2 separate regions of the Homo sapiens genome follow, and region 1 is reported to be linked to region 2. Evidence: microRNA targets listed by miRTarBase, many of them from high-throughput screens and not tested one by one. Region 2 holds a microRNA gene; the other region holds the end of a gene's coding sequence.

Region 1 (4,344 bases), not on the chromosome of region 2:
CAACTTACTTGTGCAATTCATCCATTTTTGTGTATAGCAGAAGTTCTTTTTCATTGCAGTATAATATTCTATTGTTTGTATATGCTATAATTTATCCATTTTACTGTTGATAGACATTAGATTGTTTCCAGTTTGGGGCTATCTGGGTATCATTTCTGTGTATGCCCTTTGATGTATATATGCATTCATTTCTGTTAGAGTAGAATTGTTGGGTCCTCGGGTATGTCTGTGTTCATTAGCATATTTATTTTATACTTCTATATAATCATTTTTTTGTGTTTTGCTTCTTGTGCAGTTTGCCTGAGAATACAGATCAACCCACAGAACAAAGCGGATTTCCAAGGCATCTCCCCAGAGCGAGCCTTTGCTGATTTTCTCTTTGCCAGCACCATCCTGCACCTTGTTGTCATGAACTTTGTTGGCTGAATCATTCTCATTTACTTAATTGAGGAGTAGGAGACTAAAAGAATGTAAGTGATGATCATAGTCCTTGTCCTATAATGTTGATTTTAGGAAGAGAAATTGGATGGGACTGGTTTTGATCATGGTTGGCCAGGCTCCCATACTGCTATTGACATTTGCAGAATTTTCCATTGGTCTGCAAAGTATGCATTAATATCATCATAATTCATCAGTGCTACTGCTCTTGGTCATTGCCTTGTCTTTCTGTTCTTCAAATCATTAAGGTAATAGAAAATTAATGTTTGTAGCTAGTACAATAATTTCTGTACCAATAACTCCACGAAAATAACTCGGAGATTTTGGAAGAGACATAAATGGTAGGTTTTGCCTTTAGATTTGTTAGTTAATTTTTTTCTGATTTTGATCTCAGATGACTTTTAATGCTGGACCATTGTTTTCATAGCACTTAAATTTGATAGCATCCAGTGTATGTTGGATGAATGACTGTGGGCATTTGCTAATATGTGCCTTAAAGTAGAAATAAATGGGGAAATTGGGTTAACTTGGGAGAAGACTTTAAAATATAAGATGGGATGCTGCTTGGTTCATTTGCCATTTTCACTTTTTTAGCAGTAGAGTTCTTTCTCCCTTCTCCCAAACAAACTCTTACAAAAAGAATCTTGGTATATAAAGCAGAAGTAGAATTGGAGTTTTTTTTGATGGACAGAAATTGAAAAGCCCTCTCTGCTTGGCCTTCATCACATATGGTACGCCCTCCCCTAAATCGCTCCCTCCCAAGCAGAGTTCTAAAGCTTTAATAAATATATGGCTGTTTTCCATACCGTATGTCAACACTGTTACTTTATATATGAGACAACAGAGGCCTAGAACAATCCATTGGCCTTCCCTGGCCACATAGTTAAGTGTTTGCAGTGAAGTGCCCTAGTCTAGCGGTGTTCTTGGCCCCGTACTCCTTCCGGTATCCCATGTAGCTTACTGATGAATGCATGCAATCTTTGCCTTTGCATTGCAAAATGTAATGTTCTGGGTGGTAGAGAAAAGAGAACCTTAGGAGATCTCATCCTATTTGGGGGAAGGATATCCTAGGACCAACCTCTTCCTGTCACCACTTGGAAAGCTGTCATTTTTATACTAACCAGCAGAAATCTAGTATAAGAGTTAGAGCATCTATGTGCAAAGTGGATGCAATAATGTGGAAGTGACTATACTTCCTTTTCTGACATGAATTAGTCATTTACTTATAATATGTTACCTAAATCCTTTCCTTTGATACTGCCTCAAAAACAGTTCTGTTAGTTCAGGTAAGGTATCATTTTGGTAGTGGTAAGTTGACAGTGAGGTTTATTTCAGTGAAAAACTTTTTTTTTTTCTTTTCTGTTTTTTTTTTTTTTTTTTTGAGATGGAGTCTCGCTCTGTTACCCAGGCTGGAGTGCAGTGGTGCGATCTCGGCTCACTGCAGACTCCGCCTCCCGAGTTCATGCCATTCTCCTGCCTCAGCCTCCCGAGTAGCTGGGACTACAGGCGCCCGCCACCACGCCCGGCTAATTTTTTGTATTTTTAGTAGAGACGGAGTTTCACCGTGTTAGGATGATCTCGATCTCCTGACCTGGTGATCCGCCCGCCTTGGCCTCCCAACAGTGAAAAACTTTTAAGAACCACTTTGTTCTGTTATTTTAATACAATTTAACTCATTAGACACCTGATTAAGACTTGAGTTATCCTCTTCCTCCCTTCCTCCCTCCCCTTCTATGTGCCAGCCAATGTCTTGTTGTTGGGAATATAAACAATATTGTTGGCTGGGCGTGGTGGTTCATGCCTATAATCCCAGCACTTTCGGAAGGCGAGGTGGGCGATTGCTTGAGCTCAAGAATTTGAGACCAGCATGGGCAACATAGCAAGACCCTATCTCAATTAAAAAAAAAAACCCAAAAGTGTGGCTTCTGCCTTCAAGACATGTACAGTCTAGTAGGGGAGAATACGTAAACATAACAGTTAAAATACAGCCCATTTAGGGCCTCGCTATAGGTTTGAACAAAGTGCTGCAAAAATCCAGAGAAGAGAGCAGCTGTACCATCTGGGAGCAGGGACAGCAGATGAGTTATCTGAGCAATGGATAACAGCTATTGCTAGTTAAAATGAACTGTTACCAGTGGATAACCTTGAATGCAGGTAGAAAACTGACCCACCAACATTGACCTTCTCACGCTTGCAAATATGAGTAACCCTTGGGCTTCCTGATAGAGCCTTCTGGAAAGGTCATGTCTTCTGATTGCTTACTCTAGATTTCTGAAGTTCTTTTTTTCTAGATGAGTCATGGTGTGTACTTAGGAAGGGGACACAGCAAACATTTCAAGGATGTTTTCTAGGCTCAGGGAGATACCAAATCATGGAAAATTATTTCTTAGGGCTGTCATGATTGGAGGAAGACTCTACTGCAGAGAGCTTAGTATTTCAAAATTATGACAAAAGCAAAGACAAAAAAGCAGTCTCAGCAGAAACTGTGTACTGCAGACCATATTAACAACCTAGGACCACCTGCTCAGCTGGGAATTATGGGCCCAAAGCATAGCAAAATCCTCAATCCCAGATTGCAGTGTTAAATCTTTCTATGGAGAGTATGTTCATAGAAAAATCTTTCTCTCTGGGGGATTGCCCAGATTGTTTTTCATAGAGATCCTTCATTTGAATTATACTATACTGTCCTGCTCTCAGTTTTTAAAAATATACATTTATTTGCTCCTTTTATGTGCTTCTAACTCAGCTATATGTGCACTGTGCCACAGCACTTTAAAAATAGTTCCAAGTAAATTCTCAATATTTATACCAGCTCAGAAGGTAGAACAAAACAGATTGAATGTCTTTATATTTTCCAACTAAGTTGAGAGTTTGATATTAAAAAAAAAATTCTGTAATATAGCTGATCTTACATGAATTTGGGGGTGACAAACTCTAACCTACTCTGAAAGAGGCAGGTCAAAAGAAAATGGCATTGGGTTAAAAAAATAAACAATTCAAGGGGAAGTAAGGAAGTTAACAGATAATGAGTGCTCAGTGTGTGCTATGCTTTAAGTACTTCTTGTTCTATATCATTTTATTTTCAGAATAATTTCACGAGGATAGGCTTGCTGTTCTCATTTACAGATGAGGAACTGAAGTTGAGAGAGCCTGGCTAGGATGGCTGAGCACGGTGGCTGATGCCTGTAATCCCAGCATTTTGGGAGGCCGAGGTGGGTGGATCACCTGAGGTCAGGAGTTTGAGACCAGCCTGGCCAACATGGTGAAACCTCGTCTCTACTAAAAAGACAAAAATTAGCTGGGCGTGGTGGCCGGTGCCTGTAATCCCAGCTACTCGGGAGGCTAAGGCAGGAGAATCGTTTGAACCCATGAGGCGGAGGTTGCAGTGAGCCCGAATTGCACCATTGCACTCCAGCCTGGCAAGAGTAAGACTCTGTTTTCTAAAAAAAAAAAAAAAAAAAAAAAGAGCCCCTTGCTAGAAATCTTACAACTAATGTATCTATCCAGGTGATCAAGAAAGACTCAATATTTTTTATTTTTTAGACTATACAAATGAAAATACAAAAGCAAAAATTCTCCCAGTGAGCTTCTGACCCCCAGAAATCCATGCACACCTGAAATGATCAGTTTTTGTTGTGTAGGTGGCGGCATATTTTTGAATGAATCCATGACAGAAAGAAGCTCAGTGGATTTCAGTATTTAAAAATGTATATACTTTAGTTTTTTCCATGTTTGTTCTTCTGTGTTTCTTTGTGAAATTCTTTTTTTTTTTTTTTTGAGACAGAGTCTTACTGTCTTGCCCAGGCTAGAGTGCAGTGGTGCAGTCTTGGCTCACTGCAACCCTGCCTCCCGGGTTCAAGCAATTCTCCTGCCGCAGCCTCCCCGAGTAGCTGGGACTACAGGCAC
Region 2 (4,391 bases):
AGCTAGAGATGCTGTCTCAGACCTAATACCCAATGGAACATCCAAGAATATGGCTCTAATTGCAGGGCACACCATACAAAAATGGAGGCGCATGGGGCCCAGCGCAGTGGCTCATGTCTGTAATCCCAGCACTTGGGGAGGCTGAGGAGGGTGGATTACTTGAAACCAGCCTGGCCAACATGGTGAAACCCCGTCTACTAAAAATACAAAAATTAGCCAGGAGTGGTGGTGCGCACCTGTAATCCCAGCTATTTGGGAGGCTGAAGCAGGAGAATTGCTTGAACCCAGGAGGTAGAGGTTGCAGTGAGCCAAGACCACGCCACTGCACTCCATCCTGGGTGACGGAGCAAGACTCTGTCTCACACACACAAAACAATGGAGCCACAGGGTCTCATCACAGAATGGATGGTCCTCACCTGTCATCTGTCCTCATAGCCAATGCAGGTACATGGCCTTCATCTGTAGGCAGAGCCCCGATTTCAACATTCTCACTCAGAAGCATGAATAACAGGGACAGAGGACCTATATAGATCTTGACACTTGGGCTGAACCTTGAGACATCTTGGCTTAAAGAACTGTATGTTTTGGACAGGCGCGGTGGCTCATGCCTGTAATCCCAGCACTGTGGGAGGGCAAGGCGGGTGGATCATTTGAGGTCAGGAGTTCAAGACCAGCCTGGCCAACGTGGTGAAACCCCGTCTCTACTAGAAATACAAAAATTAGCCGGGCAGTAATGGTGTGTGCCTGTAATCCCAGCTACTCGGTAGGCTGAGGCAGGAGAATCGCTTGAGCCTGGGAAGTGGAGGTTGTGGTGAGCTGAGATCGCGCCACTGCACTCCAGCCTGGGTGACAGACTGAGACGCTGTCTCCAAAAAAGAAAACCTGTATATTTTTAAACTATGATTTAAGGAGATATGTATGGGTGCTGTTATGGACTAAATGTCTGTGTCTCCCCCAAAATTCTTATGTTGAAACCCTAACCTCCAATGCAACTATATCTGGAGACGGTGCCTTTATGGAGGTAATTAAGGTTAATTGAGGCCGAAAGAGTGTGGCTGTAATCCAATGGGACTGGTGACCTTTTTTTTTTTTTTTTTTTTTTTTTTTCTGAGACAATCGTGTTCTGTCACCTAGGCTGGAGTGCAGTGGCATGATCACGGCTCACCGCAGCCTCAACCTCCCAGGCCCAGGTGATCCTCCCACCTCAGCCTCTTGAGTAGCTAGGACTAGAGGTATGCACCACCATGCCTGGCCAATTTGTTGTATTTTTTAGAGACGGGGTTTCACCATGTTGCCCATGCTGGTCTCGAACTCCTGGACTCAAGCGATCCACCATCCTCCCAAAGTGCTGGGATTATAGGCATGAGCCACCATGCCTGGCCTTCCTTATAAAGGGAAGAGATACCAGGGATCTCTCTCTCCGTGTCCCATGTGAGCGCACAGTGAAATGATGGCCCTCTGCAAGGCAGGAAAGCAGGCTACACCAGAAACAGAACCCTGCCAGAATCTGGATCTTTGTCTTTCCAGCCTCTCACAATTCCAGGGATTTTGAGAAGTAAATGTCTGTCATTTAAGCCACGCAGGGTGGTATTTTGTTAAGGCAGCCCTGACAAACTAAGACAGGTGCCAGGTTGACAAGAGATGGACCCTGATAGTCATGTTAATGTGTCAGCTTGGCTAGGCGAGATCCACAGTTATTCAGACACTAATCTAGATGTTGCCATGAAGGTTGGTTTGTTTGTGGTTTTTTTTTTTTTTTTTTTTTTTGAGACGGAGTCTCGCTCTGTTGCCAGGCTGGAGTGCAGTGGCACGATCTCGGCTCACTGCAACCTCTGTCTCCTGGGTTCAAGTGATTCTCCTACCTCAGCCTCCCAAGTAGCTGGGACTATAGGCACATGCCACCACGCCCGCTAATTTTTGTATTTTTAGGAGAGATGGGGTTTCACCATGTTGGCCAGGGTGGTCTCAATCTCTTGACCTCATGATCCGCCTGCCTCAGCCTCCAAAGTGCTGGGGTTACAGGTGTGAACCACTGTGCCCAGTCAAGGTTTGTTTTTTCTTTTCACCTTCTCAACCCAGCTTTTCCCCGACTCCAGGAAGAACTGGGAAGAGAAGGCCCCATGGAGGTATTTTCTTTTCTTTTCATTTTTTTGAGACAGAGTTTTGCTCTTGTTGCCCAGGCTGGAGTGTAATGGTGCAATCTCAGCTCACTGCAAGCTCTGCCTCCCGGGTTCAAGAGATTCTCCTGACTGAGCCTCCCGAGTAGCTGGAATTACAGGCGTCCACCAACACGCCGGCTTTTTTGTATTTTTAGTAGAGACGGGGTTTCACCATGTTGGACAGGCTGGTCTCGAACTCCTGACCTCAGGTGATTCACCTGCCTCGGCCTCCCAGAGTGCTGGGATTACAGGCGTGAGCCACCGCACCCGGCCCAGTGGAGGTATTTTCTGGATGTGATGAAAATCCATAATCAGCTGACTGTAAGTGGGAGAGGTGATCCTGCTTGTTCTAGGTGGGTCTCATTCAATCAGCTGAATGTTTTAAAAAGCAGATCAGAGACTTTTCGGATGAAGAAATTCCACCTGTGGACATCAGCTTCAGCTTGTGCCTGAGTTCCCACTTGCCCTTCCTGATAGGATGGATTTTTTTTTCTTTTTCTTTTTATTGTTTTGTTTTTGTTTCTGTTTTCAGAAGGAGTCTCACTCTATCACCAGGCTGGAGTGCAGTGGCACAATCTCGGCTCACTGCAACCTCCTCCTCTCAGGTCCAAGCAATTCTCCTGCCTCAGCCTCCCAAGTAGCTGGGACTACAGGCGTGTGCCACCACGTCCGGCTAATTTTTTGTATTTTTAGTAGAGACGGGGTTTCACCATGTTAGCCAGGAGGGTCTCAATCTCCTGACCTCGTGATCCACCCGCCTCGGCCTCCCAAAGTGCTGGGATTACAGGCATGAGCCACCGTGTCCGGCCTTTTTCCTGTTTTTGAGCCAGGGTCTCGCTCTGTCACCCAGGCTGGTGTGCAGTGGTGCAATCAGGGCTCACTACAGTGTCGAGCTCCCAGGCTCAAGTGATCCTCCCGCCTCAGCCTCCCAAGTGGCTGGGACCACAAGTGTCTGTCACCATGCTTGGCTAATTATTTTTTGTACAGGCAGAGTCTTGCTATGTTGCCCAGGCTGGTCTTGAACTCCTGGCCTCAAGTGATCCACCTACCTTTGCCTCCCAAAGTGCTGGGATTACTGGCCTCCCCCACTGTGCCCAGCCAGATTTGAGTTGCCTAGCCAGCCCACACAATTCTGTAAGCTGATTCCTTGCATATAAATATCTCAATATATATCTCCTCCTGGATGTTTCTCTGCTTGATCCCTAACTGATAGAGGCCCCACCCTCTTCCCCCGCCACCCTTCTGCTCCCCTAGGCTCTGTTCTTAAGCCCCTACTTGTCCCTCCCAGCTCCACCTCCTAGGCTCCGCCCCTAGACCTGAGCCCCGGCCCAGCCCCACCACTCCTTCCCCAAGCTCTGCTTCTGGGCCCATCCTTCTTCCCATTATTACTTCCTAGGCTGCGCCCCCAGCTCTGAGACCCGCTCCTCCTCCCCACGCTGTCCCCGTGCCAGGACCATTACGCTCCGCCCCCGGTGCAGAGCCCCGCCCCAGGCCCCGCCCCCAACCCTTTAGCTCTCACCATCGCACTTGAGGCCCTGGCGCACTAGGCCGAAGAGCATCTCCCCGCAGTGATCACAGAAGGCAGGCGCCCGATAGGAGTGCACCGTGAGGGCGTGCGGGCGGATCTGGAAGTCCTCGAAGGTGGCCGAGGCTGTAGGCGGAAAATAGGGGTGGATGCTTGAGGCGGGGTAGGCCAAAGCTTTTCCAGACCCCACGTTCCCTGATTTCTCACAGTGCTCCCAGCCGCAAGGTGTGATCTTTCCTTCCTTCCTTCATTTGCTCTCATACTACATTCTGCCTGGGTTCAAATCCCAGCTCCACCCCTGAACAAAACACATATATCCCTACGCCCTGGGCAGGGACAGAGCGGGAATTGGGGAGTTGTTTAACGGGCAAGGAGCTTCAGTTTCGCAAGATGACAACAGTTCTGGAGACCGGCTGCACAACAGTGTGCGTGAACTTTAAATTACTGAACTGTACGCTTAAAAGTGCTTAAAATGTTGTGGGCTTTTTTGTTTGTGTTTGTTAGAGAGTTTCACTCTGTCACCCAGGCTGGAGTACAGTAGTGAGATCTCGGCTCACCACAAGTCCGCCTCCCGGGTTCAAGCAGTTCTCCTGCCTCAGCCTCCAGAGTAGCTGGGATTACAGGCATGCGCCACCACACCCGACTAATTTTTGTATTTTTAGTAGAGACGGAGTTTCACCATGTTGGCCAGGATGGTCTCAAACTCC

What was found. Region 2 holds the annotated microRNA hsa-miR-320e (AAAGCUGGGUUGAGAAGG, at 2,066-2,083, opposite strand). A microRNA usually pairs through its seed, bases 2 to 8, with sites in the 3' UTR of a target mRNA and lowers its output. Matches are read on the target gene's strand: a 7mer-m8 pairs with bases 2 to 8, a 7mer-A1 pairs with bases 2 to 7 and ends in A, and an 8mer does both.
Region 1: the mRNA of DAD1 is a reported target of hsa-miR-320e. The part of its 3' UTR that is shown has no 7-base or 8-base seed match.

The regions. Positions count from the first base shown.
Region 1 is chr14:22,571,185-22,575,528 of GRCh38, reverse strand. It overlaps DAD1 (defender against cell death 1), which reads left to right. Exons shown (of 3, transcript NM_001344.4): 2 at 296-470. The coding sequence ends at 426. Among named protein-coding and RNA genes, the nearest start is that of DAD1, 16 kb to the left of the region's middle.
Region 2 is chr19:46,707,229-46,711,619 of GRCh38, forward strand. It overlaps MIR320E (microRNA 320e), which reads right to left and starts at 2,126; the gene lies at 2,054-2,126. PRKD2 (protein kinase D2) reads right to left here. Exons shown (of 18, transcript NM_016457.5): 3 at 3,679-3,810. RefSeq lists an enhancer at 2,621-3,439.